4 separate regions of the Homo sapiens genome follow, and regions 1, 2 and 3 are each linked to region 4. Evidence: fine-mapped expression QTL. A gene starts in region 4. Each other region holds a variant in brackets. All regions are shown on one strand. Distances are from middle to middle.

Evidence for each region. PIP is the estimated chance that this variant, and not a neighbour inherited with it, causes the effect.
Region 1: its variant is fine-mapped to the expression of PGM5 in whole blood (TOPMed, PIP above 0.99).
Region 2: its variant is fine-mapped to the expression of PGM5 in cerebellar hemisphere (GTEx, PIP above 0.99).
Region 3: its variant is fine-mapped to the expression of PGM5 in tibial artery (GTEx, PIP above 0.99).

What each region holds. Positions count from the first base shown.
Region 1 is chr9:68,383,387-68,391,496 of GRCh38, reverse strand. It overlaps PGM5 (phosphoglucomutase 5), which reads right to left. Exons shown (of 11, transcript NM_021965.4): 3 at 6,953-7,099; 4 at 3,909-4,034. Among named protein-coding and RNA genes, the nearest start is that of PGM5-AS1, 30 kb to the right of the region's middle. The variant A/T (reference allele first, on the strand shown) is at 4,504.
Region 2 is chr9:68,489,288-68,497,397 of GRCh38, reverse strand. The region is part of intron 9 of PGM5 (phosphoglucomutase 5); the gene reads right to left. Among named protein-coding and RNA genes, the nearest start is that of TMEM252, 48 kb to the left of the region's middle. The variant C/T (reference allele first, on the strand shown) is at 4,664.
Region 3 is chr9:68,442,405-68,450,514 of GRCh38, reverse strand. The region is part of intron 6 of PGM5 (phosphoglucomutase 5); the gene reads right to left. Among named protein-coding and RNA genes, the nearest start is that of PGM5-AS1, 89 kb to the right of the region's middle. The variant C/T (reference allele first, on the strand shown) is at 3,473.
Region 4 is chr9:68,352,089-68,360,198 of GRCh38, reverse strand. PGM5 (phosphoglucomutase 5) reads right to left here and starts at 3,588. Exons shown (of 11, transcript NM_021965.4): 1 at 2,811-3,588. The coding sequence starts at 3,071. PGM5-AS1 (PGM5 antisense RNA 1) reads left to right here and starts at 2,333. Exons shown (of 3, transcript NR_121192.1): 1 at 2,333-2,476; 2 at 3,853-3,909; 3 at 4,594-5,035.

The DNA.
Region 1 (8,110 bases), 31 kb before region 4:
AACCTTCTCCCCAGAGTATTTTGTTCTGAATAGTACAGGAAACACCATTTAATAACCCAGAAGAAAAACATAAATTTACAATCGTTTTAAAGATACAATATAGAACAATATTTGCTTGAACTACTATTTATTGAGCATCTACTATGTGCCAGTTACTGTGGTAGGAATACAGAAGATGTATTCAGTCATCTAGTTCCATAAATTTTTTCACCTGAAATTTTTCTAAAAGGTTGCCAGAAAGAAATCAGCTACATAATAATGATTCATTGTCTGTTGCTTTTCATGTATTAAAAGTTTTAGCTGAATATATGCAAAAGCATTAAAGGGCTCTAGCAATGTTCTTTGTCTCTGCAATCATTTGGACTCTGCCAAGTATATAATTAAACACTATAAACCACTGAAGCATATAAAAACAAGCACATTTTACCAAAATACATGCCAAGGAATAGTATTTTCCAGTTCAATGAACATTATGGAGTATGCAATATGGAGCTGCTCTGCTAGGAAATGAAGGGATCATATTGAAGGGATGCAAAGCACATAGTTTCTACATTCCTGGGCTTGTAATCTAGTAGTGGGATGAGTCAAAGCTGCAAATGAATGACTGCAGTGGTAAGACTAAACAATGCACATTGATGAAATAATTATATCCAATGGCTTCAGAGAAGCAATAACCACACATAAGGCTTCAAGGAAGAAGCAGCATTTCTGGTGGAACTTGACGGAATAATATAAAGTTGGCAAGTGTTTGGGTTTAGAGTGGGAAGCCCATCTAAATCGAAGGAACATTATGAGCAAGGGAACAGAGCCTGAGGTAGAACATAAGGCACATCTGTGGAACAGCATGTAATCCTCCTAGCTGAAATATCTGAAAGATATTGCTTTCCACTTATTTTCCACCAATACAACACACAATCCTCCAATAGTGAACATCTCTTGATTGTGCCTGCCCAGCACACATTTCCTCTTCCTCTGGATACAGCATTTGGGATTTGTTTGGAGAAAAACTCTCTTCCCCATCTCAGTTCATGGGGTCTGGGTATGGCTAAATCCCACCTCCCCAAGGCTAAGGAGGTGACCTATGTCTGCGCAATCAGCGTCCTCCATCTTCTAGCCAGAGCAATTGATTCAAAGATGGACATACAATATAAACCAGGCAATGAGGCTGAAACCCAGAAACATTGCTCATACTATTTGGAAAAAAAGCAAAGCTGTCTTCCCTGTAGGCCAGATAATGCTAAGGCAAGAACCTGAAAGTTCTTTTCCTGAGGAATATGATCAGCCCAACAAGAAAGAACAGAACAGCCTAGCCAGAAGCCCTTAGAGTAAGGCCCATGGAGAAGACCCATAGCAGGCTCAGAGCTCCCAGCAGATTTTTAGTGCCTCATTCTTAAATATGCCAGAAAGCCAAGGATCACCAAAATTTTGAGGAATGTATTTGAGATGAGGTGAAAATAAACAAAAAGTAAAGAGAAACCTGGAGGAAACAAAAATTATACAGGGAAAAGAAAACTTTTTAAAATATATCAGTAATATCCTAATAGAGATTAACAAGATAGAGTAGAATGGCTAAAATGGAAAAGACTGACAGTACCAAGTATTGGTGAAGATACAGGTAAACTGGAGCCCTCATGCATTGCCAGTGGTGCAAATGGAACAGGCATTTTGGAAAATGATTTGGCCGTTTCTTATAAAGGTAAACATACACGTATCATATGACTCAGCAATCCCATTCCTAGCTGTTTACCCAAGACAAATGAAAACATACAGACTTGTTCACGAATGTTCACAGTATCTTTCTTTATAATAGCCAACAACTAGAAGAAAAAGAAATCTAATTTTCATTAACCAGTTAATGGATAAACAAATTGTGGTATATCGACAACACAATAAAATTGTACTCAGCAGTAAAAGGAACAACTACTGATACATGCAACACCAGGAATGTATATCGAAATTATTATGCTGAGTGAAAGAAGCTTGAAGCAAAAGGTGACATATTGTATGCTTCCATTTACATAACTTTCTGGAAAATGCAAAACTATGGGGGCAGAAAGCAGATGAGTGGTTGCCAGGGGCTGGGGATAAGGGGAGAGGTTTGACTACAAAGGGCTGCCAAAAGCTCTTTGGGGTGATGGAAATATTCAGTCTTGATTGTGATAGTGGTTACATGACTGTATATGTTGGTCAAATCTTATCAAACTGTATACCTACCAGGAGTGAGTTTTACTGTGTATAAATTATACCTCAGTAAACCTAAGTTTAAAAAGATATGGTATCCATGAAACATAACTAGGATGCGTTTTTACAAGAGAGAATCTTTGGAAAATACAAACAAAAGTTTTGGGAAATTAAAAATATAATGGTAGAACTAAAGGACTGGAAGATAAAGTCAAGGAAATTTCCCAGAAAGTAGAACAAAATAAAGAGATGAAAAACTGGGGAGGAGAAGGGGAAATAGAATAATTAAAGGATCAATTCAGTAGTAAAAATAACCAGAATGGTTACTAAATAGTAATTCAAAAACTTTTCCAGAATTAAAGGACACAAGTGTTCAGACTGAAAGGGTCCATCAGGTGTCCAATATAATAAAGATAGAGTCCCACACTAAGATCCATTATTGAAAAACAGAGGAACACTGAAGATAAGTCAAAGGTCCTAAAAGCTTCCAGAGAAGAAAAAGGAAAGACAATGGATTAAAAATCAAAATAGCACTGGATTTCTCAAGTTTAATATAATAGCTATAACACAGTAGAGCAATGCCCTCAAACTTCTGAAGAAAAATAATATCCAACTTAGATTTCCATATCAGTCAAATATTAATCAAGGGCAAGTGTAGAATAAAAGGCCTTTTCAGATATACAATACACAAAATATTTACCTACCATGAGCTTTCTCTCACTGAGTTCCTGGAGAATGTGTTCCTCCAAAATGTACGAGTAAATCAAGGTGTCAGACAAAGAAACCAGGGAACAGGACATTTAACATAAGAGATGTGTAAAAAGAATTACTACCATGGTGATAAAGGGAGATTTCATGATGACAGCATGCTCAGAGAGCAACCAGGGCAGAGTGGGGCAGATCAAAGTCTCCAGGAAAATGAAGTGAAGGAAGATTTAGACACTAGCGGAGAGCTTGAGGATTAAGAGTGGTAAACATACTTGATTAAAAGCAAGCAATGAGAAAACAAGATAATTGCTGTTTCCAAGGAAATCAAAAAGTTGTACTGTAAAGGAAATATAATTATAGCATATTGCATGGCTCAGCAGTGTTGTGGTAATGTAAACACTAGATAATGATCTTACCAAACTGGTGATATAATTAGGGAAGCATGCTAGGATTCCCTAACTGGTGGGTGGAAAGGGTGGGTGGAGAGGTGGGTGGTGGGTGGAGAGGGTGAAAAAGAGCTGCAGCTCCAGTTCCTGTAGTATGAATTCAGTAATGCTCAAAACTGAAAAACCAACAAGGGTCTGTATATTCATAATATTTAATGATAGGGAGATAAATACAAAAAAGAAACAGCTGAAAAAATGGAAAAATTTAACTCTGGAAGGTAACAAATTGGGGGAAGATAGGAGTTGGGTACAGATTGTTTTCACAATAAATCTTGAACTATTTATTTGACTGTTTAAACTATGCCATGCATATGATCAAATAAATAACAGTTTTACTATACTCCACACTTGAACATGCATAGCCTCAAACTCATTTGTTCAACTTTTGTTTTCATTTACATCCAAAGACAGAAATAAGGGTCCTGAAGTTTTCCAGAGCATTCCAAATATCTGAACATACACATGTTGTGTGAATATCTATGAATCCAACTTTCCTCTTAACCTCTGAAACCCAACAGGTGTACAGGTCTCAATATTTCCTGCCCACTGATTTGGAGAAAATCACAAGCTTACCTCCGTGCATTGCGTCAATGCGAATCTTCAGTTGGCTGGGTCCAGTCAGCAAACCCTTGATGGCATGAAAGTCAAAGATGGTCCGAAGGAGGTTAAGATAGATATCCACTGGGTCCACTATCTCCACTAAAGATAGAAAAACAAAGGAAAATGTCATTGACTGTACCCATGAAAGATACTTGGAAGCATAAAAAGAATCACTACCTTAAGAGCATGAAATTCTGGTCACAAGCCCATCATATCCCTGCACATGATGTGGGAAGCGAAGTGCCCATTTGTTGACAAAAATCACAAATCAGGGCACAATCAAGATACTACAAGCTTTTCAGGTGCTCAATGGGTATAAATGATACCAAGTTATAAATTCTTCTTTGCAAGGAAAATATCAACCACAAGAATAAATTAAGATAAAAATGTGCCCTGTTACTCCTGCTCCCACTTTCCCTCCCAAAAAAATGCACACAGCACACATCTCAATGTTTAGAGGCATTTTGGCATATCCAGTTGCCTTTCTTGTGGGGGCTGGCCAAAGACTGACTCAGCTGGTATGAAACAAATCAGCAAGTGACCTCAGTAGTGACCCCTATTTTCCAAA[A/T]GCCATTGTGCCTACCAGATTCGAGTGCAGAATTGGTGATGAATATATTCCTGGGTTTGCGTGAAATCTCATTCATGCCCAATCTAGCACCCAATTTCCAAATGAATGGCAAATATCTAGAAGTTCTCATTAAACACAAATGCTTTCCAGTATCTAGCACCACCCAGTAACCAATAATCCAAAAAGTTTTATTCATTTATGTGACATACCAAAAAGCTCAGAATACATTTTTCATACTTGTCAATCAGTGTATAATTAATGCTCAGAAAGTACTTTTCCAAGAAGTAGTAAATCAATTCTTTAGGTGCTAAAATTTGTCCAGGAGCCCTGCTTTTTTAAATTCATAGCTAAATTTTGAAACTTACGTATATTGTTTTCAGATTTTTCAAATACATACTACTTTGAAACCCTGAAATACTTTTAAACTTGCACTGAAGATATTACCAACCCACTTTCAATAATTTTTAGTAAATCCAGGTGTGATATTTAATGGATGAGATCTTAATATGCCATATAATATTATTCCTTCATCTGATCAAATACATATCTAAAAATATTTTTTCTTACACTTAAGTCAATGTAATTTATGTGTTCATTCAAATATAATTATATTTGTAACATGGATACTTTTAAATTATCTTTTTACATGAGGAGCATAATAATCTATGAAGTAATTAAAAATTAACCTGTATAAAGTGTACACCTAACAATGGTTAAAATGGTAAATTTTGTTATGTATATTTTACCACCATAAAAAAATTAATCTGTAAGACAAAAGGTTATGCCCTGAGTACTTTGGAAGTTTTACTCACTCTACATTATAGGATAATGTTTTTGACAATTTCATTCTGGCTCTTCAATTCTTGAACCACTTGCCTAAATACATTTGGTATTTACAATAGGTAACACACAGTACCAAACAAATGTGAAAAACGAGGGAACAAGAAGTCAGTAAAAATTGAAAGTTCACATCATATAGTTCATGCTCTTGACACTTTAAAGTGAAATGCAAAGGAATTATTTGTTCCTAATTAACTCAAGCTTTGCTCAACACTTGAACCAGCAAGAATACAGCACATAAATTATCCCAAACGATTATCTCCAAATTCTTGGAAGCCAGGGAATCTCTCTACCTATCTCCTGGTATCAGTAACATTTTTAGAAAACTCATTCAACTAGCAATGTGGCTGCAGCAATGAGCCTGAATGAGAGCCCACGAAGATTCGGGTCTCTCGGACAACTATAAAAATTGTGAAGATGCCAAAAATAAGCCTAGTCCTTCCAACCATATGTAATCAGCATATTGAAATCATTTTGCTTAATATAATGTACCCCTTGCCTTTAATTGTCCAGCCATCCCATGCATGTGCACACATATGCCTATGCATTCTCCCAGCTAGATTAGCAAAAGCAGGCACTGTTGCTTCCAGTGAGTATCATGGCTCTCTGTAAATTTCTGCTCATTACCTAAGCAAACAACTGACTCAAAACTTCTCAAGAAAGATTTGGTAACATTGGGCAAATACTGTGACCCCCCACACAATCCATTTTAATCTTTTCTCTATCCCTAAAATATCACATGGACACAAACCAGGTATTTCCTCTTTTGGGCTAAGTTAAATTACTTCTAAAATGAGGATACCATCTTAACACAAACTGCATTCAAGCTTATAGAAGCACTAAAAAAGTAAAACATGTTAGATCTATTGCTATTCTATGCCTTCTAGGAAAAAGCAATATGATAAAATACAGGGGGAAAATGTATACATACATGTTATTAATGTTGTTGTCATATGGTCTAAAATTAATCTATAAAACAAAAAGCTATCTTCTGAATACTGTAGAAGTTATATTTGCTTTACAATATAAGATAATATTTTTGACAATCTCATTTTGGTTCTTTAATTTTTGAATCACTTGCCTAAATATATTTGATAGTTACTGAATTCCTTTGTAAAATCTCCTAACACGGTGCTTGGTATAGGGCAGGTGATCAATAATTATGCATTCAATAAGCTGATGCATAATTATTCCAAGCTTGGTTATGGCTTGGAAAAGAAACTCCTACCTTTCATGAGAAATTTAATAACCCATTGACTTGTTAGGTTTCTTCTTAACTAAGGCATTCCAGCATCTTCACCTTAATTGCTTAGACAAGTTTTGGCAATTCACAGCCTATTTTTGGAATGCTATAATGAAGTCAACCATAAAACTTTTCCTATGTTGAAAATGATATCGAGTTTGGGAAGTGGTTTTTGAAAGTTTCCAGTTCTGAATATCTTGGCTGCTCTCATGTCTTCTCTCTACACCATATTAAGTTTACACACATTTATCGAGTCACCCCTGAGATTAACAATGCAATAATTTTCATGAGTTTACTTCCCTACAGAAACCAGTCAGCCCCATCCACATAGTTACTCTGACTTCTTCAAAATAAAATCTCTGTTACCTCTGAATGGTTTGAATTTGTTTTCTAGGTCAAATTCTTGTCTTCCTAGTCGAGATAGGTCGATTCGGAGATCAGGACATATAGCATATTCCTCAATCGTTTTGCTGATTTGGTAGATTTTGTCTGAGACAACATCGGGTGCAGGACCTAAAATGTGAACACCAAAAATACATGTTTTTGAAAGTCTCGTGAGTTTCAAGCAGTGAAATGTTACCATCCTCCTCCACCAGGCAGAAAAAGATTCATTTGTTCTCTAAACAATGATCAATGGTTCACAGTTCAATTAGCCTTGATATTTCTTATACTGTACTCATCCACTATGGGGGAAATTTGATCAGCCTCACCTGTTCTATGTAGACTAACAACCCATATGTTTGTTTGTTTGTTTTAATCCACTTCTAAGCAATGACACATCTTTCCTAAAAATAGTTTCACACCTGCCAGGGAAACCTGGTTACGTAATCAGCTTTATTCAGGTTATGAGACACAAACAGGATATGCATTTGACAGAAGTGAGGGATTCCAGATTTACATGCAGCTTCCCCAGTGCATCTAGAAGAGGAGACTATGCTTTCTATTCCCAGCTCTGCTACCTAATTGATGTGTGAGCTTAGCAGGGTAAGTTAATTATTTTCCCCAACTCACAATCTCTAGTCACTTCCAAAATGAAGCTCAACTAAAAATATGTGATGCATTTCCTCGGAAGACCAAATTGACAAGTAGTATTAGACTTTAAATAAATTGAACATGAAATCAATACTTGTTCACCTTTTGGGGTTTTGCTTTTTTTTTTTTTTTTTTTTTACCTTGTATATCTTAATGCAAGCCATTTCAGATTTTTTTTTTTTTTGCAACAAGGTTGAGAAACAAATAAGTAGATTGAAAGATCTAAAGTATAAATGATCGCTAGATGTATAGATAGCTTTCTGTATGAATCTTACTTGTCAACTATACTGTAACTTTCTACTGAACAAAAATTGTTTCTTGATTTTTAAAATATCTCAATCCTTAGAACTGCATTGTCCAATACAATAGTTACTTGTCACATTTAGCTGTTGAGCACTTAAAATGTGGCTAGTCAAGTTGAGGTGTGCTGCAATTGTAAATGCACACCAAATTTTGAAGAGTTAGTAGAAAATGCAATCGATTGCATTAATA
Region 2 (8,110 bases), 140 kb before region 4:
AACCAATCACTCTGTAATACTGGCTTTGCAGACAGGATGATATTATCCAGGATTTATTCACTGGGCAAACATTTTAGTGTGGCCCTTATGGATTAGGCACTGTGCTAAATCCTGGGTATATGAATATAAAGACACAATAGTTGTCCTCCTTAAGCCTGGAGTAATTTTTTACAACGAACAGAAACTGTCTTCTTAACCACCTTATGCTGCTGGAGAAGTGAATAGTTACAAAATTCCAAATGGAGCAAGTGAAGCAATTACTGACTGTCTACAAATCACTGTATTTCAAGTTACGTTCAAACCTACAATAAATCCCCAAAAGTCTCACAATTATATTGATATTCACAGCCTTGTTTTTACAAACTCTTTTGAAGCTGTTACCTATGTTTAAGCCTACATTCCCGTTGTCACTACACGTGGGGCGCGTGAGCACGTGACTCTGCTCAGAACTATGGCTTACCCATAAATTGGTTAAAGCAATATCTAAGGATGAGGTCCTAACCCACCTGTTGCAGATTCCAAGTCACTTGGGATTACCTCTTCTGATGAGCCCCCAGACTCAACCCTTTGAAGTACCTCCCATTAAACAATTAACATTCTCAGATTCATTTTTGGCCAGTGAGGGGAAATTTAAGAATTCAGGTCATAACAAACTATAAACATGTGTTATCTGCTCATAACTAAGCCTTTTAAAAATGAAATAATGTTATTGTTTTCCCCTGAGGTTAATTATAATGTCTTTGACTATACTACATGCTACATGCCTAGAAGATTGTTAGAACCTATGTCTGGTAGCCTGGAATAGATTTCTCACTTGGAAAGATGACAAAGATGTGAATAGCATGCATCAGCCTACTGGAAATGGTCCAGCATCTTCCCTCTTTCCTAGGAAACTAACCATGAGATCTTAACTGAGAATCCATGTTGCTTTTCAAGACCATTCCAGGTGAGGAACATCATTAATTCTCCTTCTCCACATGGAATGTAAGGGTTTCTTTAGAGCCAGCCTAGTTCTGTGCTGCAACAATCCCAGCACCATGTCTGCTGAGGCCCCCTTTTATGTGTGAATAGCTGTATTGGATTGCTTTGGGATCTGCATGTTCTTTCAACGAACTTAATGAATTTGCAACCCAGACACGAGCCATGTTCTTTCCATCATGTGTCATCACCCAATAGCATTTAAACTATGAAGCCAAAGTTACCACTGACCAAGACTTGCAAAGTTTCCAATTGTTCCTGAATTTCAATGAAAGAATACCAATAATCGCATTTATTTTTTAGGTTATACTAGGGGTTGGCACTATGTAGCCTGTAGGTAAGAAGTTGACCTGCCACCTACTTTTATGAAACAAGTTGTACTGGGGCACAGTCGTGTCCATTCATTTATATCTTGTCTATGGCTGCTTTTGTGCTGCAGTGGCAGAGATGAATAGTTGTGGCAGAGACCATCTAGCCCCCAAGGTATAAAATATTTACTACCTAGCCCTTTACAGAAAATGTTTGCTGACCCCTGGTATAAGGCATTACATTATTCACAACATAGAATACTTGCCTTTTATCCCTACAGCATAAGATAGAAAATATAACCATTTGAATTATCAAAATCTCAGTAGAGAGAAATTATGTTTATGTAGATTGTTATAAGGATATAAAATCCCTCCATTCCCTGGTGTTCCAGCTTCTAGTCATAGGTTCACCTGAACCTGTATTTGGCTCAAATCAACTTACCTCTCACCACCTACTCCTAACATAAATGAATTTATTAAATTGCACTTTAGTTTTATGTTCTCACTTTTACTGCAGGATGCTACAAGCTATGTCTTATAAAATCCACTTTTGTAGTCACTAGTAGAAATATTGTTAGAGGCTGTATGAAGCTCTGCCTGAGACATTCCTTCAAGAGCCAAGTATTAGGAAAGCCTTTCCTTCCCTAAGGAACTTGTATTCTTTTTCTTTCTGACAATAAGAACTTTGTAACTAACCACATTTCCCTTTTCGATATGGCTGCCAGGATACTTAATGCCAAATTTGAGGTTCAGCCCAAGTGGATCCTCATGACTTGCATGACTATAAATTTTTCTTCTTCTGTTCTTGACTCTACTCTTACTTATATATTCCCTAGTCTTGATTTATGTTTCTTATTTATATTCTAACAACTTCATTATGTGTGTTTTTGCCGCCACAAGTCTTGAAGAAACAAGGCTCAGTGAAAATGAATAAAACAAGTTTCCACCGCAGTGTTAACCTTAAAATTTTGGACTTGCTGAGTTATGACTTTGGGTTCTTCATTAGCTAACAAGCTCTGGGAGGACAGAGCCTTATATACCTCATTCATCATCATTTTATCCACATAGCCTAGGACAATGCCTGGCACACTGTAGACCTTCCATAAACACTTGTTGAATGAATGTCACTGCACGTTCGACAACTAAAGTGAGCACCACTGCAGTCCCCCTGAGGCAGTCTCAGAGAGCCTGCCTTCGCATTTAGCAAGGATCCACAGGCTACATGAAAACACATGCACGTTCTTCATGGTGAACTAGAGCTGATGTATCTACCTTGAAGAGTGGTTGCAAAAGATAAACTAAGAAAGTGCCTGGCATAGCATCATCATGGCAGGGCTTGACTGTTTATTCCTCCACCATTTCTCAAGATGTCTTAAGACAAGGGCCAGTTTTGGCTAAAAACAATGGAGTTGAACCATGGTAGGTTCTTGTCCCCAGATGTATGACCTTAGGCAAACCATTAGCTCATTAATTGCAAAATGCTACATATTGAAATCAGTGGGAGGTCTTTAAAAAATGGTGGTGCCTGGCTTTCACCCCAAACATTGTGATTTAATTCTTTTGGGGTGTTACTTGGGAATTAGGATTTTAAAAGCTTTCTGGGTGATTCTAATGTGCAGTAACTAATTGCAATAACCTCTTTTTTCTGGGTCACTTGCCTCATCTATCAAGTGACTGGACTGTGCTACATGTCCCTTATAAGGAAGGTCCCTTTAGGATTTAAGGTTTCATACATAGGCTCTCACTGGGCTGGGACTGTAGGAGGGCTGTTAACACAGTGAGGCTAATAAAACAACTTCATGCCACTGAATCCTGAAAGCTTCCCCCTGGGGCCTTGTCAGCAGCAGAACCACCTCTTGAACCATCTGACATTATTATTTTTTTTTTTTAGCACAGTCTTCGTAGGAATTCCTGGAGCAACTGTGAAAGAATTCATGATATCTCACTAGCCACAGCAGCTAGAGTAGCCGGAATATCCAGGATGACACATAGCCACACACTCAAAAAAGGGAAAAATATGCTCTCCTTTATTAGAAGACAATGTTAATTATGTGGTGGGGAGGAGTGTGGGTATCAAAAGAGCACTTCAGTTCCAGCTTAGTGTTTTCCTTACTTTTCAGTGCCTGTGGTTGTGAGCTTTAATGATGACAGTCGAGTTCTGCTCACCTTAGCTTTGTCCCAGTGAAGAATGATTGATAAAGGATTTCATAACCCTTGTCCATATGCAGCTATCTCCACACAAAAATCCTTCAGTGTGCTTCCAGTTATCACTGTAGCATCTCTTTTTCTCCCTGGATTTGCCCCCTCTTTGATTTGCTGTTTATGAAGAGTCAGTTTGGAAATGATACAAGAATAGCAACTGGATAAACTCAGGCTAGAATGCTGGCTTGGCCACTTTTTTAGCTGGTGGTCTTGAGTCACTTAAGCTCTCTAAGCCTTAGTTTCCTAAAAAGCAGTTGAAAAATAATACAGCCTAGCTTATTGGGTTGTTGTGAGTGTCAGATCTTAACATCCTGAAAGAAGGATCTTAGAGTCATTCTTGCCAATCTCTCTTTTTATTGAAAAGAAAGAAGTTAAAACACTTGCTCAAGGTAACGTATTTAGTAAATGGAGGAGCTTCATTTACTTCCATTTAGGTCTTCTGACTCTAGGCTTACAATCTGAGGTTGAACCATATGCAACTACTGATATTCACACATTGCTTCTCATGCGAAATATCTGAACAATATCTTATGTTTTGTATTTTTCCCAAAGCTGACACAGAGCCTTATGTAGAGTAGGTATCTGATAAATGTTTGATAAATAAATGTTAGGGTTTTTACTATTTTTTTAATTTTAAAAATAAACCCTTGTGTAAATCAATACAGGGAAATCTGTAAGTTGCTAAATACACACAGAGCTGCCAGATATTAGTTTGGAGACTGTAGGACATGTTGTAGCCAGGCAGGGAAGGGTGAACTGTACATTACCAACAGTTATTTGGCAGCATTGGACCTAGTCAAATACTGACTTGGGATGAATTCCAGGGGAAAACAGCATATGGCCCTGCAATCTGGTACAGTGTCGCATATATAGTCAGTTGGCCACAGCAGGCATGTGAACCTGGAGACAGGACAGCCTTGGAAGAGAGAGACTCTGCGAGCCTAACTCAGATCTTATCTCCCACAGGAAATCACAACGATTTATCTGGAAAGCGTCAAGGTGAAGATACTGCTTCGTAACATCTGAACCATATTTTGTAGAAGTGGGCATGCAGCCTAGAAAGCAGGAGATTTGGATTGAACAGACGTATCTTTCCACACACACTAAAAAAACCCACCTAGAATTACCCATTTTTCTTTGTTTAATAATTCATAGAGTTAGCTGTGAGCATGAGT[C/T]CAAAAGTGGTTGAGCAAGGCAGCAGTTACTCCATATGGTGCTTTTGTGTGAGTTAAAAACAGGTGCCCCCCTCTACCCCCAGCATGGATAAATTGCAGAAAACCATCCTTCCTTCGGCTGGCTTGGACTTCAGCTTCTCCTTCCCCATTAGGCTGGGTACCATTGTGCAGTGTGCTGACTGCACAGCCATACTCAGCTGCCCTGCTCTTGGGAGCAGTTCTCACCCAGCCTCTTTTAAAAACCAACCAGCCTTCTTGGGGGCTAACAATTGCAAAGAACTATCTGGGGAAATCAAGGTCAAGTGACTCCTTACACGCTCTTTTAAAGCACTCACCTAGAAAAGCCATGCTAGGTGATGAGAGGGCTGCTGGAGGGCGAAGACTTGAAAGCTATTCCTCATCCAAATTCCAACTCTCAAAACTGGAACAATGGAACAAAATCATGCACCTTCTATTTCCCCATTTCTTTGGCCAATGACTGCTGATCCCTGTTCACACAATATCCACCCCAGTTCTGGGATATTTTGGATTCAGGCACACTTTACCCAGACAACGGCATAGCTTCCTCCCTTAGTTCCTGTGATCATTTGCAGCTTTTCTCTTTTATATTTATATTTCCTGGTGAAGCTCATCCACCCGACAACACAGAGACATTAGTATTCCAATAGAAAGTAACTGTGTTGTCATTCGATAATGCTTACACGCTTGCTACACATTTTAGGACAATTTTACTACTGACACTTTAGACAATAGTTCTAAAGCAATCAACTTATGCCAGGAGAAGGTAATTCTTTATAACAATACTCCAGTTAACCAGAAACAGGGAGATGAGAACTTCCCGACTAACCAGAAACAGGGTCTCCCTCATTCTATTTTCTTTCTCGCTTTTTTAAAAATTTGAGATGAGGTCTCGCTGTGTTGCCCAGGGTGATCTTGGACTCCTGGACTCAAGCAATCCTCCTGTCTCAGCCTCCCAAGTAGCTGGGACTACAGGCATAAGCCATTGCACCCAGCTTCCCATTTTATTTTCAAATCAGCTGACAGGTCATTATAAAGTACTGAATATGCGTTTGGCCTTCAGAGGACAAATAGGAAAATCACAGGAAAAGTGGCTAGTAGAAATTATTTTTTTAAACCTATGGTTTTCAAAATGTCCTAGCACAAGCCATAGTGCAATACAGAGCCCGACTGTCTTTATTTTCCCCAACTACAGTGTTGTAGAGTGAGCACTGAAGTTGAGAATCCTAATCACAGTTATCGTAGCATCCCATTGAGAATGCCTATAGGAAACCTTAGCTCTTTATCTGGAGAGCTAAACAACCATATAACAACCACATTGGACTGAAGAAAAGCAAAGAGTCTGATAAAATGGTTTCACCTGGGCTGCCTTCTACCCATTCTTCAGAGTACAACTTAGATATCACCTCTCTATGGAGAACTTTCTAGAGCCCTAGTCTAGTTTCCCCCGCTATGCACACCAAATAAGTTCTTCCTCTGTAATACCGTTCAACAAACTCTACAGTAATTAAAGTTTAATATCAATTTATCTTCCCTGCTAGATTTTAAGCAGCAGACAGGAATCTCAACTGTCCTGAATACTGTTGTATCCTCGGTGCTAATGAGCTGACTGGCGTCTAGTAGGTGTTTGGTAAATACTCACTGAATAGATGAAGTTGTAAATGAATCAGCCTCTAACAACCTTCACCATATTAGACTAAGTTAGGAAAGGAATATATGTTTATTGCAGAGATTCTTTTCAACATCACAATTTTCAAAGAAAAAGGTTTTTTTAAACCCACATCGAATCACAATAAACTAAATGTGATAATAGCCCATTCACTTAAACAGTTCTGTGACTCAGTGTAGAAGTGCTATTTGTGGGTATGCTAATTTTCAGATTTAACTAAATTCTATAGGTGGGTTAATCAGTGTGACTAAAATGATTTCTGAGGCTCTACTTCCAGATGCGCAAACCACACTCCAGCAAATGGCACTCCAGCAAAAGGGACAAGGATAAATTGTTACAATTATAGTCTCTCAATTAGTTCATTGATTAGAATGTGATCAAAGTTGAAGTTGAGGTCAGGCGCAGTGGCTCACGCCTGTAGTCCCAGCACTTTGGGAGCCCGAGGCAAGCAGATCACCTGAGGTCAGGAGTTTGAGACTAGCCTGACCAACATGGTGAAACCCTGTCTTTACTAAAAATACAAAAATTAGCCGGGTATGGTGGCGCATGCCTGTAATCCCAGCTACTCGGGGGGCTGAGGCAGGAGAATCTCTTGAACCCAGGAGGTGGAGGTTGCAGTGTTGCAGTGAGCCAAGATCATGCCACTGCACTCCAGCCTGGTGACAGAGCGAGACTCCGTCTCAAAAAACAAAAAACAAAACAACAACAAAAAACAAAAACAAAAAGTTGAAGCTGAAATTTGACTAGCTAACTCTGAAGAGAGAAGAACTCAATCTTAAAGCTTCAGATTCTCCAGTTGATATGATTCAGTTGCTTTTATACAGTGCTGGGGACAACACCTTAGTGAGCTGCTTCATATTTGCTGACCAGGGGTTTGTTGCATCGAGGTACATATTAAAACACCACATGCTGGAAATAAAATGTGACTTTGAGATTGCCAATTTACTATTTCTAAACACTGAAATTAAAAAGAGCAGACACCTTCTTGCAAATTAAAATAACAACGCTAAAAGAAAACTGACTTCAAAATCAGTCTTCAAAGTGTGCTTTTTCTCTGAACTAAATTCAAACGGTTCTTTTTTTCCAGGTTAAGGACAACATCAAAATGTTTCCACATAGCCTGCTTAACTTGAAGAGGTATTAATCAGCTCAGAGTTAGCCTGACATAATCAAATTGGATTTGGTTTTCCACATCACCTAACTGGTATGCATTTATTTACATCAGCTTTTTAACCATCAGCTGAACTGTGACTTGCAAATGACTTCAGCACTGGAAGAGTTTCATGATTTTTGAGCTTGTTAGAAATATAGGAGTTGGTTTGGGAGGCCGAGGTGGGCGGATCACTTGAGGTCAGGAGTTTGAGATCAGACTGGCCAACATGGTAAAACCCTGTCTCTACTAAGGGTATAAAAAAATTAGCTGGGCGTGGTGGTGCACGCCTGTAGCCCCAGCTACTCAGGAGGCTGAGGCACAAGAATCGCTTGAACCCGGGAGCAGAGGTCACAGTGAGCCAAGATCACACCACTGCACTCCAGCCTGGGCGACAGAGCCAGACTCTGTCTAAAAAAAAAAAAAAAGAAAAGAAAAAGAAAAAAGAAAACAACAACAACAACAACAACAACATAGGATTAGGATGAGTCATAAAAAGAGACTCAGTTGCTTAAATTTTGCTCCTGAAGTGTCAAGGTTTCTCATTTCAAATCCAGTTTTCAAAATATAGGTCATGGTTCTGGATTGATACCCACCATAGTGGAAATAT
Region 3 (8,110 bases), 90 kb before region 4:
GACAGTGTTTCCCCCTCTTTTTGGCAAGCTGTAAAACATTCTGAGTTGGGGGAGCTGGAGGTACTTGATCATTCACCTTCGGAAGAGGTTAAAGTTTTTTACACTTTCTTGATAATAAGAACCACCTGGGGTGCTAATTAAAAATGTGAATTCCTGGGCCTCTTTGCTAGAATATTCTGGGTTACAGGTCTTGGTTAGAGCCCAGGTGTCAGTACTTAAAAGCAGTGGTTTTTTTGTTTGTTTTGTTTTTGTTTTTGTTTTTATTTTTTATTTCTAGAGATTCTTGTTTTTAGGCAAGTTTAAAATAGTTAAGACAAACTGTACACAAATGACAATGATCAATTAACATATGCAATTGTATATCTCTATTCACAATTTTAATAGCTGAATTTTGATTCATGTATCATACAGTGTTTAAGAGGTCCTCAAAAGGGGTTCACACTTGAACTGACATTGAACATTGGTGCTGGTATGAGAGTCTACCATGTGAGCATGCTGACTATACTGGTCAAACCCCAGCAGGCTGAGGTCCAACTCTTGCCTCCCCTGGACATCTCTCTTAAATGTAAGCAAAGCAATTGTCCTCCCCACCCTACCCCCATAGCTGTAAGCATCTCACTGGATTTAAAATCTGACAGACTGGGGTTTGAAGTTGCACTCTTACACTATTAATTCTGCGACACTTGTAAGCCAGTCATTTATCCTCTCTTATCCTCAGTTCCTGCATCTAAGATTAAAGAGGCTGTGCAGTAGAGTGAAACAAGCTCTGGCTCCTTGGGTAGACAAACCTGGGTTCAAATCCTGATGCCCACCTTTCACTAGCTTTGGGGACTTGGGTAAGTCACTGCTTTTCTACAAGCCTTCACGTGCTCATAGGCAGAGATGGGGGCAGTTGCGACACATGATAAACACTCCATAAATGCAGCTATCACTTAACAGGCAGAAATCCTTACCTTGGGTAGGGGAAGGTGCCTGTGTGAGTTGAAAGCTCTCTGACCATGGGGTCCCCATCAGAGGGCACCCATAGCTGAAGTTCACCTTGAGGAAAAGAATCTCTCCTCTCTTGAGGAAATACTCCTCAATTTTACTTTCCAGGGACTCCAAAGGCTTGCAATTCCCAGACAAGCCATTCTTTTTGCCCTCCAGGGCTTGGTGATGCTGCTTCCCTCACTTCGGCTAGCTGAGTCTTAATTGTCCTTTCAGTCTCAGCTTCTGGGAAGCAAAGCTAGAGCCCCAGGGCTATAGACTAAAGGTCTGTGTCCACTCCAAATTCATATGTTAAATCTTAACCCCCAACGTGATATTATTAGGAGGTAGGCTTTGGGAGGTGATTAGTTCATGAAGGTGAAGCCCTCATAAATGGGATTAGTGCCCTTACATTAGAGACTCCAGAGAGCTCCCTCGACCCTTCTGCCACATGAGGATACAGCAAAAAGACAGCCATCTATGAACCAGGAAGCAGGCCCTTGCAACACACTGAATCTGCTGGGTCCTTGATCTTGGACTTCCCAGCCTCCAGAACTGTGAGAAATGCATTTCTGTTGTTTATAAGCCACTCAGTCTATGGTAATTTACTATAGTAGCCCAAGTGGGTGAAGAAGTCTAGAATGAGAGGCCCCTCCTGGGGTTCCCCAGAGAGACACAATCAGCCCACAATCTGCTGTCCCATAGCACCTAGAGCATTTCTGCCACAACACCTTTCACACTATGCTGTCCCCTGCATGCATCTCCAGCAGCTTCAGGAGGACAAGGGCTGTGTCTTTCTCTGAATATCAACTCAGTTCAGGGTCTGGCAATGAACAGGGCTTGAGGGGTGCCTATTGATTGAACAATGATCTCTGGACTATATTCCAATGGGCGTAAGAAGGATTATCAAAAACTCAGGAGTGAAGAGATTCTAATATACAGAGCCCCAGCTGCTTTGAAAATCACTGCAGGTAGCAAGTGGTGCTCCTGCTGCAAGTGGACTTTGGCTGCACACAGAAAAAGAGTTTGAGAACCCCTGAGCTAACTGAGAAGAGAAGAGAGGTCCTGGTTAATGCAGGTTTGTTAATGAAATTAGCATGACTCTTGGGTGCTGGGTGGAAGCCTCTAAGTGGGAACAGGCTGTGCATGAAGGTGCAGGGGTCTCAAGAGAGGCTACACGCAGCCTTCCCTAAGTGTCTCCCCAAACAACCCCTCCCTGGGTGACTCGGCTACCTGGGTGCCCTGGGAAGAGCGTTGCTACTGCTAGACCTGTCCCAGAACAGAGGGTTCATACCTTTGGAGGACACATACTGTCACATTTCTGTGATTTTTAGCCTCTCCTGCAGACTTTTGTTTACTGGGAAATATACTTCAAAAAGGTGGATTTCAAAGAAGGAAGTGAGTCTAGGATTAGAAGCTACTGGAGAAGACAACCTATTTGCCTACAAGTAGAAGCCCCTCCTCCCCTCAAAGCCCCTTTTCCTCTTCCCTCTTCCCCATCTTGTAAAATAAACCATAGTTTATTTCAGTGAAATTTCTATAGGTTTGCAACAAACCCTTTCTTTTTCTTTGCTCCAATTTAATTTGTTTCTGCCCCTGGCAACCCAAATGCCTGTATTTAAACAACCAGTATCCTCAGACTACTAACTGGAAAACTGAATTACCAAGAGATTAAATAGTTTGTCCAAAGCTATGAACTGGTAAGTGGCCGGGCAGGGAGTCAGGCCCTGTCCTGTCCAATTCCAGAACCCATTCTCTGTACACTGAATCATGCCAAGATGTTCTTAGGGACCTCTATGGGTATTTCTGGATATGTTTTGCCTATAAAAAATTGTTTATAAAAAGCGTGCTGGATTGAAATAGTGGAACTGTAGGAAATACTTGCTGCAAACACCAAAACTATAGCCTTCTTCTAGTAGTAATAATAATAATAATAACAGCTAACATTTCAGCATTTACTATGTGTTAGGCATTGTGCTAAACACTATAAAAGGATGTTATCACCTTTATCCTCCCCATTCTTAATAGAGGATATTGAGACTCAGAGAGGTTATATGACTTGTCCAAGGCCTCAGAGCTAGTACAAAAAAGCCCTGTGGTTCAAAGCCAGCTCTCTCTCTCTCTCTCTCCAAACTCGAGCCTCACTGTACAGAAGTGAATGGTACAGCGCAGGAAGGATAAACTGAAACCTTAAGGAGGCAGTGGTTGCTTCTCTGCAGCCATCATTATAATTCACAACAGGGAGGCAAGTACAAGTAATGTCAGGATGTGCAACTTGTGAAATTTTCACTAAAAGTCAGAAGGCCAGTGGTGAGATGGGATTTTAGTGAAAACTAAGAGGTCGGCTGCATTTGGCAGTGAGCATGATCCTCAGACATGTCCCTCCCTCCGGCTTGGCACCAGCAACCCCTTATGATTTATGCTTCAGAGTCACACAGAGCTTGCAGGCACCAACTCTGCAGTAGCAAAGAAAATGGATGGTCTGCCTTGGGATGTTTTCCCTGCA[C/T]GCACCACGTTCCCTTAAAAGGCCTCCAGAGTGTATACAGTTCTGACAGGAGGGCAGAGCTAAGGAACGGCTGGGCCACTCTTCCCCCTTATAAGGTCAAGTATTACAATGGCATCCTCCCTTCTAATTTATGAAGCAAAAGAGTGGAGGAATGCCGATCAGGAGATGGGAGGATGTTTTACCAGAGAGACGATATAAAGCTCATCTTGCTGGCAAATGACTTATAAGACCAAGTGGAACAGAACACACACTTGATGAGTTGAGTTTCTTTTTAACTCTAGAGAATAAACACTTTTATTCCTCTCTCGAATGTCAACATTTCATGAAGCCAAAGTATATGCAGAGCTTCTCCACCCCAGTATTAGAGAAAGTGAAAAATAAAGCAAGAATAAAAACCTGTAGACTTCATCCTTCATAAATTTATCTCCCTCCTTTCCTAGCCTTCGTTTCCCCATTAAACACATATACACACAGAGACACGCACAGCACGTACACAACCAATCAGGCTTCTGAACAGAGACAACAATTTCATTTTAAACAGAACACAGAAAGAAATAGGGGATCAGTCCTCTACAAAGAGTTCTTCTCCCTAATGGGCCTTGCCCATGTTGTTAGAGGCTATAGACCAAGTTTCCCTATTCACTCTCTATCCTAAGGTTGGACGCAACGAAGACAAGAGGGTGTATGAAATGAGAATGTATGGGAAAGTGTGTTGCACATTGTAAACCATATAATATGCATAGTTATTTCAAACATTGTGGTAATGTCCTCCTTGAATTATTACTTTTTAAATTACTATTTATTGGTTTTAATACACAACTGGTTTCCTTGGATGTAACTGAGTATAAGTTGTGACATTATTTAAATTACTTTCACCCTTGTTATAATTCACTTTCATTTGGTCAGGCCTCTGGATATATTTGGAAGGACATACTGGGCCAAATGACCAATCTCTTCTATCTTGCCTCAAAAAGCCAAGGAACTCTTGGCATCCATGCTACATTTTAATGGAGCATCATACAAGGTAGTGGACAGGGAAAGACTCAGGCATTTTATACACATAAAAAATATTCCTTCACCATTTGTAAACCACATGTCTGTAAGGAACACCTTGATGCGAAACTGATTACTTTTAAAAGGCACTTGGAGATCCCCAGATACATGGTAGAGCACAAATAACTACACGTAAGAAAACAATGGACAACACTCCCTTCAGTGTAACTCCCCAAATGAGAGGTGTTTAGTGTAAATGTTTAGCCTGAAGGTTAAACTTCTTACAACCAGAAATTTACTAAAGCAGGCACTGCTGAGCCCAAATACATAGAATTTGAAAAGGTTCTATTTAAGGTCTTCATACGATCAGAACAATAAGGAAAACTCACAAGGTACTCACAGCAGACTCTCTACCCTTTGGGTTTATTGAATGGCTACACTTGAGTCAGAGTGAGTGAGCAAGTGTAAGGAGAGAATGCAAGATCTCCACGTTGTGTCCCAATATGCAGGCGGTGGAGCCCCTGGCTACCCTGGTGTCTGCTGTATTCCAAGCATCCTCACACTATCTAGGGAGCCTAGGAGGGAGCTTTCAAAGGGTATGTCCAGTTGTTCAACTTTAAACATTTTCTAAGTGCTTGCAGCTCCAATGGATGGGGTTTCCTTCTAGGGACTGGGAATCAAACAGATGGTGTGCAGGTCTTTAGCTTTGATCACCTGCATTGGAATTACCTGACAACGTTGTTTAAAAATGCAGACTCTTGGGTTCTGTTCAGAAAGAATGGATCAGAATCTCTGGGGATGGGGCCCTGAAATCTGCATTTTACAAGGGATTTTTTTTTCCACCTATCTAATCCTGATAAGATTCTTACGCACTCTAACATTTGAAGACCACTGCTATAAGCATTAAAAAAAAAATCCTATTGAGTTTAACACAGTTTTATACTCAGCTAAGAAATTAAGTTATGGCCCTAGACCCAAAGTATATATTTCTTAAGATTTGTAACAAAAAGGGATATTAGGGGACAGCTAGTTCAGCCTCTTCAGTCTTTAGATGAAGAAAGCAAAGCTCCAGGCAGAGTAACTGACTTGCCCTGGGGTCGTAATGCCAGCTGAAGGCCAATCCCTGTGGGAGTTCTGGTCCAGGTCTAGTTCCAAAACTATTGCTCTTTCTGCCATAATACCCACCACCTTTTCCACTCCTTCCTGTACCCCTTCTTTGCTTATCTGTACACCCTCCAGGGGTGTTTAGTTTAAAATGTAGAATAACCCACCATGGTGATCTGAAAGCTGTTGTTTCTGCCTTTCAAATACCCAACCCCTGCTGAAGACAAGAGACCACTGGTTTACTTTTGTAGAACTTTTCCCCTCCCCAGTGTATGTCACTCAAGGTGATCTCCTCTTGCCTGGCCAAAGAGTGGGCATGCGACTCAACTCATACTAAGAAAATGCTGAATCTTGAGTGAAGTGAGAATGGGGGAAATGTATGTCATTTCTTCCTTGATCTGGAAGATAATTCTCTGGAGAGATTGCCCATACATAATTCCTACCACCTAGGTTCCTATTATTTTTGAGACCAGCTTTTTCATTGATTCTGGGTTACTCCTTATCCTTCCATTGCATTCCTTTTAAGTAATCTAAAATTGGTCTTGCTTCTAGCACCCCAATAATTCTACTTGACCCATTTCCTTATATCATAACCATATGCACTAGCATTTGACTGAATCCTATGGAAAGAGAAGTTAGGGTCAAATATCTCCCTTTTGGAAGCAGAGAGGATGTGAGACTTGCAGTTGGATGGGTGGGGATGAGGCAGTACTGGAAATCCCAGTCTCCCTCAATGCCCACCACTCTACTTATTCCAAATAGCTCAATATTTCTGTCTTTGATCCCAAAACACCCCATCCTTGAACTAAAAGGCTATCTGTGCAACTGAAAATAGAAAGTCATGAACTCACAACTGCAAAGTGATCCAAAAAAAAAAAAAAAAGAAAGAAAGAAAGAGAGAGACTCTTCTAAGTAGCACATGCAATCTCCTCAAGATCCAGTGCCAAAAAGCAAATGGGCTCCACCATATCTGCACAAGTAGACAGATTGCCCTCCTTGTCAGTCTGGGTTTTACCTTTAACATTGTCTCCCTCAGACAGGACCCTGATCCCTGATGTACACTACATCTGCATGCAATTTCCACATAATAGGAGCAGGGCTCCATTACTTTAAAGTCTTAAATGCGATTAAGAGGTCTTTCTGCCAAAACCCATATTGCTCTTTTGTTACAAAGCTATACAAATATTTATGTTTTCTGTTTGACTTGGCAGAACAAAGGACTCTCAGACTCTCTACTGCTCTTGCTTTGAAATGACCGTCTATCTTCTGCTGCAAGTTACTTGCCCTTTACTGTGATTCTCCAAAATAAGTTCTAACTTTTTGGAGGAGAGTTGATAAAGAGGTCTAGCATTGGTAGTTGCTCCAGAGAAGTGGTACGCAAGCTGCACAGCACATTAGGATTAAGAGGGAAGCTTTGAAATATATTTTAAGGTTTTAAATTAACCTACAGTGAAATTGACTTTTTGCTGTGTTCTGTTTTATAAATTTTGACATGTGTAGATCTATGGAACTAGCACAACAATCAGGAAACATAACATTTCCATCAACCACAGAAACTCCCTCATGAAGTCACACACCTCCCTCCACCCCTAGCCCCTGGCAGCTACTGCTTTGTTTTTGTCTCCATAATTTTGTCTTTTTGAGCATAATACAAATGGGATGATACAGTATGTGACATTTTGAGTTGGGCTCCTTTCATTCAGCAAAATCATTTGACATGCATCCAAGTTGTGTGTATCAGTACTTCTGTTTAATTGCTGAGTAGTATTCCATTGTATAGAAATATCACAGTTTATTATTCACCTGTTGAAGGACTTTGAGTTGTTTCCATTTTGGGGGCTATTATGAATAGAGCTGCTATAAATATTTGTGTACAGTTTTAATTCTGTAGCTATAGAATAAGAGTGGGAGTACAGGGTCATATGGTAAGCATCTGTTTAGTTTTATAAGCAATTGACAAACTGCTTTCCAGAGTGGCCCATTTGGCATTTCCATCAGTACTATATGACAGCTCTAGATGATATGCATCCTCATCAACACTAAGGTATTAGCAGTAATTTTTATTTTAGCAATTCTAATTGTTATGTAGCAGTATCTCATCACAGTTTTATTTGCATCTTCTAATGGTTAATGATGTTGAACACATTTTCGTGTTCTTATTTGACATCCATATATCCTCTCTGGTGAAGTATCTGTTAAAACATTTTATATAATTTTAATTGGGTTAACTGTTTTAACTCTTTAAATATGTTGAAAAGATTATACCTTCTCATATGAATTGCTTTAGCACCATTGTCAAAAATCAGTCAGCCACATTTATTTAGGTGTATTTCTGGACTCTCTATTCTGCTTCATTATCTCTGCCTTTGCTAATAACACATTGCTTTCTGTTAATTAGAAAGTGTGATTACTCCCAGCACTTTGGGAGGCCAGGGTGGACAGATCACCTGAGGTCAGGAGTTCAAGACCAGCCTGGCCAACATGGTGAAACCCCATCTCTATTAAAAATACAAAAATTAGCTGGGCATGGTGGTGGCTCCT
Region 4 (8,110 bases):
TTTTTCTTCTCCAGCAATTACATAATCAAAGAGTAACTGTAGTTTTTCCTAGAACATTGCTTTGTAGGCTGGGCATGGTGGTTCATGACACTTTAGGAGGCCAAGGCAGGCAGATCTCTTGAGATCAGGAGTTTGAGACTAGACTGGGCAACACAGAGAAACCCTATGAGTAGTAAAAACACAAAAATCAGCTGTGCATAGTGGCATGCACCTATAGCCCCAGCTACTCAGGAGGCTGAGGTGGGAAGATCACCTGAATCTGGGGAGGTCAAGGCTACAGTGAGCCAAGACTGTGCCATTGCACTCCAGCCTGGGCAACAAAGTGAGACCCAGTCTCAAAAAAAATGAAATTTAATTTAAAAAAAGAAAATTGCTTTGTAAAATTAACTTTTTCAATCAAAACCAAGATTTTTCAGATATAGAGAATGCAGCCCACTGGTTAGATTTGTCAGTTCAAAGAGAATAAATTCTAGTTTTCTATTTTTCTAGCCTGCTTATGAGTATCCAATAGGATATCAAAAAAGACCAAAGCCTTTGGGATCCAAGTTCAGTATTCCTGAGTCTAATTCAGGATGCCAAATCAGGAGACAAGCACATTCTCATCAATTTTCAATCATTCAAGACCAATTTTGCTTATAATTATCCAGTTCTTTTAGACCACCTTTCTCCTGAAGCCAGCCTTATGGCTATTCACTTCACTTTAGCATAAGCCCCCAAGAAGGTGAACAAAATGAGGAAAAGATTGGTTAAAGTTGGCTGTTTGAAATTCTGAAACATGTCCACCATTCCCTTCACCCATGCCCACCCCTCTTAGAAGTAGTACTTTCAGATTATTTAAGAGTCGATGCTTCTATGTGGATTTTAATTTGTCATCTGTCCTTTATAACAGCTAGTAGGTTTAATTTGACCCTATTTTAAGCATATATTGACCTATGCTAATTATCTGTTAAAATAAATTCCACTCTTAGAGTTAATAAAGTGTGTTTGTCATAGAAGACCCATTGAAGTAAGAAGCTGAGGAGTCCTTATGGTAAAGTGGGACAAGAAATAATAAGACATAATAATTTTCCCATGCAAATCAACAACCGTAGCTTCAAAAATATCCTGACCCACAACAAGTATTGGACAGGCCATGTTTCTCTCACTCCCTAAAAAATTGGCTCGGGAAGAAGTATGAGAGCTCCCATAGCTCTCCCAAGGCTCGTTATTCTCCATCACTCCACAGGAACAGCCTGTCAGAGAAGAGTGAAAGACCATTTGTCAACCTCTCTTCAACTCCCTGATTCTAGCCAAACTTCATCAATCCCAAGTGAGGAGCCAGAGATAAATCAAACCCCATATATCCAGCATCATTGTCTACTGGAGTCAAAAATCACAATTCCACTACCCACCCCAACACCACTGGCCCTGTTTCTCCCAATTGCGTTTTATTATGTTTTTAAAAAAATCCTCTTTCCCCATCCCTGCAACACCGAGAAGGAGGAATTATAGTAGATAAATATGAAGCATGGAGATCCTTTAAAAATGTTTTTAATAATAAATGAGAAAATGAAAAGGAGAGGGTTGGGAAGGAAGGAGGGAATTCAAATGCCAGGGAATTGTTCAGTTTCGCTTTTAAAGATGTTAACACTCATTTATACATCTGCAAGACACTTTCCTTAAAGAAAAGTTCTATGAGTGTGGGTCTGGTTGCATGAATAAGGATAAAATTACTTTTTTAGACGATGTTTCCCACATATAATTCAGAGACCCCTGAAATTAGGTATCCCTCTTGTAGATGTCCTTGAGATGCTGCTGGACCTGGGAAAGAGGAAACTGGGATATGGGTCTATGCCAAAAGGTGCTTCTAGTTATAGGACAGAGAGGAAAGGGGCAGAGGGAGAAAAACCTGAAGTCTGAGAATCTGGATTGCAGAAGACTACCGAGGTCGTGGGAGAAGGGAGAGAAAACAAGGATGAAAACCGAAAGGGGAAGAGGCATGAAATGTTGTCAAATGCCAAAAGGCATTTGGAGAGAAGTTGGGAATTGCATTAAGAAAACCACTGCAAATCTCATTTCAGACCATTTAGAGATATGCCCCCTGGGAACTGCGAGCTCAGGCTGTTTAGCATCAAACAAATGGATCCACTCCATCCCTACCCTAATTAAATAAATCATTCAGTAATTCCACTGGGTTAAAGAACCAAAATAATAAAAACCTTCAGGGCCTACTCTTGCCAAATATGTCAGGGATCGTGTGTGTGTGTGTGTGTGTGTGTGTGTGTGTGTGTGTGTGTGTGTGTGTGTTCTGAGACACCACTACTGTTAAATAGGCAGAGCTAAGACTTAGGGGACTGGCAGATTATTGCAAAAAGGGCACGGGGCAGAGGGACTATGTTGTGAGCCTGCGAAAGAAGTTTGTGTGGGGACTGTGGGCAGTGAATGCGTTGGGAACAATATGGAAAACTGGGAGCTGCCTTGGAATCTACAGGGCCGGGTAAGAGAATGTCCGAAAGAAAAATGAGCAGGTGCGGGATGTGCGCAGAGTCGGAGAAGAGTCCAGGGCGCCCGGAGTGGCTCCAGGAACGACGGAAACCCCTCAAGGCTTTTGGGGGCGGTGGGTACTAATAGAACCCAGTGTCCGGGGTGCACCGGGGAGGCTGCGAGCGCGGCGGGAGTGGGGCGCTGGAGGGTGAGGACGCGGGAGTGAGGTAGCAAAGCCGGGGCCGGGCAGGGGCCTCCCAACTGGGCCCGGAGGCAGCAGGGGGACAAGGGCTAGGAGAGGGCATGGCGGCGGCGCGGCGGGAAGCGAGGGGCATCCGGACACTCACCCCGTTGGCCGCGGCCATCTGCACCACGATCTCGATGGCCGTCCTGCTAAAGTACCTGCCGTCGCTGCCCACCACCATGGTGCAGCCCTGACGGTCGCGCAGGTCGATGGACGACAGCACGCTCTGGATAAAGTTGGGCAGGTAGTTGCGCTGGCCCTCGAAGAGGCCGGTGGGTCGCCGCAGACCCCCGCCGCCGGCCGGCCGCTGGTCCTCGTAGGGCGCGGTGGGCACTGTCAGCACCGGGATGGGGCTCCCCTCCATGGCGCCTCCTGGCCGGTCCTGCTGCGGCTCCCGGAGCCGGAGGGAATCTGCAGCCTGCCGGGGGCCTCCACCAGCCTGGCTGCGCGCCGGGACTCCGCCTCGCGCCCGGGCCCCCTCTCCAGCAGGTCGGCGCCCTGCGCCCTGCACCCGCCCGCCTGGGGACCGCCCGCCCCTCCTCTCCGCGCGGCCGCTCGGCTGACTCTCTCGGCAGAGATTGCTTCTGCCTTCCTGTAAAGTTTTCTCCCACCCACCTTCTCCGCTGCCAGACCGCCCGAGCTGCCCTCAGTTTCTCCCCAAGTTGGACTCACTTTCGGGGTGTCCCAAAAGCCTGATTCCAGGGCCTGCTAGCCCGACCCCGGTGACGCCTCCACCCGCGCCTGGCCCCAGCCTTCACCCGCGATCGCCGCCCTCCGGGGCACACCCTCCGCCAGAAAACAGCCGGCGGGCGGCGAGACTTTGGGCAGAGTCCGGGTTCCTCTCCGGCGCCCGGCCCGTCTCCCTGTCTCCCTGGGAGTGCGCAGCCTACACACACCAGTTTCTCTTTAGAACAAGGACGGGGAGGGATTTGGGAGGGGGCTGAAACCTTTTGCCATCAGCGAACAGCCTCAGCCAAAAATAACCCTGGAAAGGCGAGCTAAGAATGGTTATCTCCTGCCAGCGCTGAAATCGGAGGCTGGGCGCTGCGTGTGGGGTGTGTGTGTGTGTGTGTGTGTGTGTGTGTACCCTCCCACCCCGACCATTTGTTGAAGGGAATCACCACTGTCAGACTTCAATCCAACAGGACCCACTCGAGCCATCCACACTTTCCCCAGCCTCCTCCAAAACAGCACACTTTCCGGTATGGACAATTCTTTTTTTTTTTTTTTTTTTTTTTCACTTGTTTGTTTGTTGTGGTGGTTGCAACAGCAGCAACACAGACGACACATATTTCCCTATTCTTCTCGCCCTTCTCACCCTCCCTACCCAGCTCCTGCCTTAGAAATAGGCTTTCCTACACTGTATCTGTCCACACTGTCTGAACTCTTCCTTGAATTAATCGTTTTCAATAGGAGGGGGCTAAATCCCTTATTAATGCCCTACCAGGAGTGAATGAATAAAGCCAAGTTAAAGGAGACCTGGGTACCAGATACTGTGCTAGGTTCCTTTGCATGTATCCTTTCATTCTGCTGGAGCTAAAGATTTTCTGCCTCCTCTCCATAAAACGCACCCAAACTCCAAAACCAGGAAATTCTCCATAGAAAATAGGAGTGAAGAGAGAAAAGACTAACAGGATAAAACCCAAAGCAGGAAGAAAGTTCTATCTCCCATTTCTCTCAAGGAATTTTTGGACCCACCAAGGCTACTGTCCTGAAATATCCTGCTGCTTCTCCTTCCCCAAATATTGTCCACTTACTGAGAGTAAGGCTGACTTGCCGCAGGCTTATAAAGTGTTTGGTCACAGTAAGACAACTGTGAGTAATAACACACATTGTATACTGTTTTGCAATTGATTAAAGGCTTTGCATCTGTTTTTTCTTTGGAGGCTGAAGAAAAGAAGAATGGTATTCATGCAGTTCCCATTTTACAGATGAAAACAAGAGGACTTTTTCTGTGAAGTCAAGAAAGTGGTTACAATGGTACTTTCAGCCTGTCCGAATTATGTATTGCCCCTCCCCTTTTTATTAATAACATTGAAGTGTGATGGGACAACCACTGAAGCCGTCTGTTGAAACCTGCTGGGACTTTTTAGCCATTCTCTTCAACATAAAGAATGGGTGTTTTTGGAGGGGGTGAGAGGAATGGGGAAATGTTGTCAAAGAGTACAATGTTTTAGTTGAGACAGGAGGAATATATTTTGTTGAGATCTACAGCACAGCATGGTGACTGTAGTTAACAATGAAGTATTGTGTATTTCAAAATTGCTAAGACAATAAATTTCAAATGTTCTCACCACAAAAAAGATAGGTTTTGAGGTGATGAATCTATTAATTCTCTGGATTTAATTATTCCACAATGTATACATATATCATAACATCACATCATACCTCCGTAAATACATACAATTTTAATTTGTCAATTAACATTTTTTTAAAAGAATAGTGTGGCCAGTCGGGGAGGTAGTTTTTTTTTTTCCTCTAGTCTCTACTCAGTCTCCAAGATCCCATTTCCCATAAAGTTCCTGTCACCCAGGTGGAGTGCAGTGGCACAATCATGGCTCACTGCACCCTCTCCCTCTTGGGCTCAAGCGATCCTCCTGCCTACAGGTACATGCCACCACGCCCAGCTAATTTTTGTAGTTTTTGTAGACATGGGGTTTCACCATGTTGCCTAGGCTGGTCTCGAACTCCTCAGCTCAATCAATCTGCCCACTTTAGCCTCCCACAGTGCTGGGATTACAGGTGTGAGCCACCAAGCCCAACCCATAAAGTTCCTAACTTTTTATCTCCCTGGGAGTGCACAGCCTACACACACCAGTTTCTCTTTAGAACATACTTAAGAGTCTTGGCTTAGCATCCAACAGACAGAACTTTAACACTTCTAGGGATCTGTGCACCTGTCTATGGTGTGGGGTTTTTAAGATCTCTTTCTAATGACACTTTTTTTTGCAAAGCAGGACAGTTTCATTCCCAGAAGAGCAGGTATGGTAAATCCTTTGTTCCAGTAACGAAGACAATGATCCAAACCCTAAGCCTCAGAGAAGCCCAGAAACCCTCCAGGCCTCCATCTCTCTGCTCCTAGCACCTGCCTCTCTCTTGACATCAACATCATTCTCCCCTCTCACAGCCCAGCTCCTTCCACAGACCCAGGGATTAGGCACCAGCACCTCAGACTAGATTTTAGAGAATTACCATTCAAGAGGCAATCCTCTTCCCTTGGTTCCAATTTCAAGGTTCTCAAAGACTGGAACAGGGCTAGTTTGAGGCAATGTGCCCTACCACATAGCCAGAAAGAACCTTACAGTGACAAGGAAAACAAGTCTTCCAAAGTAAGGGGGTGCTGATCCCCAGAGGGAGGACAGATGGGCAACCAAACAGTAACCGGGCCACCACGTGCTTCACACTCACTGATCAAGGATTTCTAAAACCATTTGTCTTTTCTCTGAATTTATATAGGACTTTGTATCACTCATAAAGGAATGTCTTATAGGCTGATAACACCTTTCTATTCATGCTTATACCTAACATTTAGGCTAGGATAATTTCCTAACCTCAGTGTCCTCACTATAAAATGGGAATTATTATAATCCCTACCTCATAAATTGTTGGGAGGATTAAAATACTTAGTAAAGTGCCTGACTAATAGAAAGGCATTCAATAAATGTTAGCTATTCATGGTGTCATCATCATTATATTTACCATTATTACTAATCTCCTGTATTGCAAGAATTACAGTTTATATTTTTGTAGACCATCACTGTAGCTAAAGGGTCTTTGGGCCATAGGTGATATTCCATAAAGGTTGGTTAAATTGTTCTGTGGTTTTTGACTATGGAAACTCAGAACTCCCTCAAAATGTACAAAACAGATTTACCTGCTAAATAAATCTCTTCAAAGCTGACCCCAGGTTTAATTGAATTAATTCCAATGAATTTGTCACAATGATGGAGAAAGGAAACTTAGAGGGCCCCACAGTTGTTTGCTGGTAAAATGAGAAGTTTGGATTAGATCAATGTTTCCCAAAATATTTTCCTCAGAATGTTAGTGCCCCTCGAATCCTGCACAAAGCAAGAGTTTCATGACCAAGTAGCTTTTAAAACTCCTGTACACTCTACTCCCATTCTTCACAATGCACACTTTCATATTAAAAGTTCTGAGAGGTCCTCAACAGAAGACATCAATTAACTTTTTTTTTTTTTAAGACAGATTCTCACTCTGTCACCCACGCTGGAGTACAGTGGCCACCACTCCTGGCCTAAAAATTTTTTTTAACCTGGTGCTTCCCAATCTAAACTCACAGGGACCAGTTTTCTTAATGAAAGAGAATCAGACTAGCTTGTAACCATAGCTGGTGACATTCCCCTGCCCCATTCCTTGTATGTCCTCAGTGGACTAGGTCAGAAATAAATAAATTTTCCTGATTCTCAAGGGCTGGTCACTCCTTTGCACTGAGCTCAAAGCTTCTCTGTAGCATGGGTCACAATGAATGGTAGCCCTGATAGCCTAGAGTAGCCTTTCAGCCTTCTCTGAGCCTCTAAAGACTGAGGATTCTTGGCATGAAATAGGAGCAACTGATATATCCTTGCTTCCCCTGGGGACTCTCTTGCTCTCAAAAAGGCATCAGCCATCATCTCCATCTAGAGAATATACTAGCTGACTCAGTTTGACCAGCCTGTCCCAAAATGAGAATCTGGGTAAAATAAGTATTGAAACACTTCATTCCTTGTAGATTCACAAAACACATTAGCATATTAAAGACTATGAAGTTCTGCAGGAAAAAAAACCTATTTAACTTTAATCCAACATTGCCAAGTTTTATTTGACCATGGAAGATTTTTCCAAAACACTTACAAACAGATCAAGGACATTAATCTTTCATGAAACACTTTAGATCCCCAGGGTCCTCTCCAGCTACATCATTCTGTGATTTTCTTTTTTATTTATGATGCATTAAAAGATTAATCTCTATCAGACTTCCATTTAGAAATTCACCAGAATGTGCAAAGGCAGCAGGTAAAATTGCCGAAGGGTATTATAAAAATACCCTCCAGTGATTTTTGAAACTTAAACTGAAATATTTATATAACTATATATTTCAGTTTGTATATTACATATATATGTATATACACACATATATATGTGTGTATATATATTTGTGTATGTATATCTATATCTATGTATATATGGCATTATATCCATTTTACAGATGCAGAAACTGAGCTTTAGAGGGGGTGAGCAATTGGTCCAAAGCCACACAGCACACAGGTAGTCATTGATAAAGGTAAAAACAAGAGTTGAAGCCTGAGGTGTAAGGACACAGAGACAAGTACACAAATGTTTACAAGTTACACATATGACACGTGCCTTTAACATGAATTTCTGGAACATTCATTTAGAGGCCTT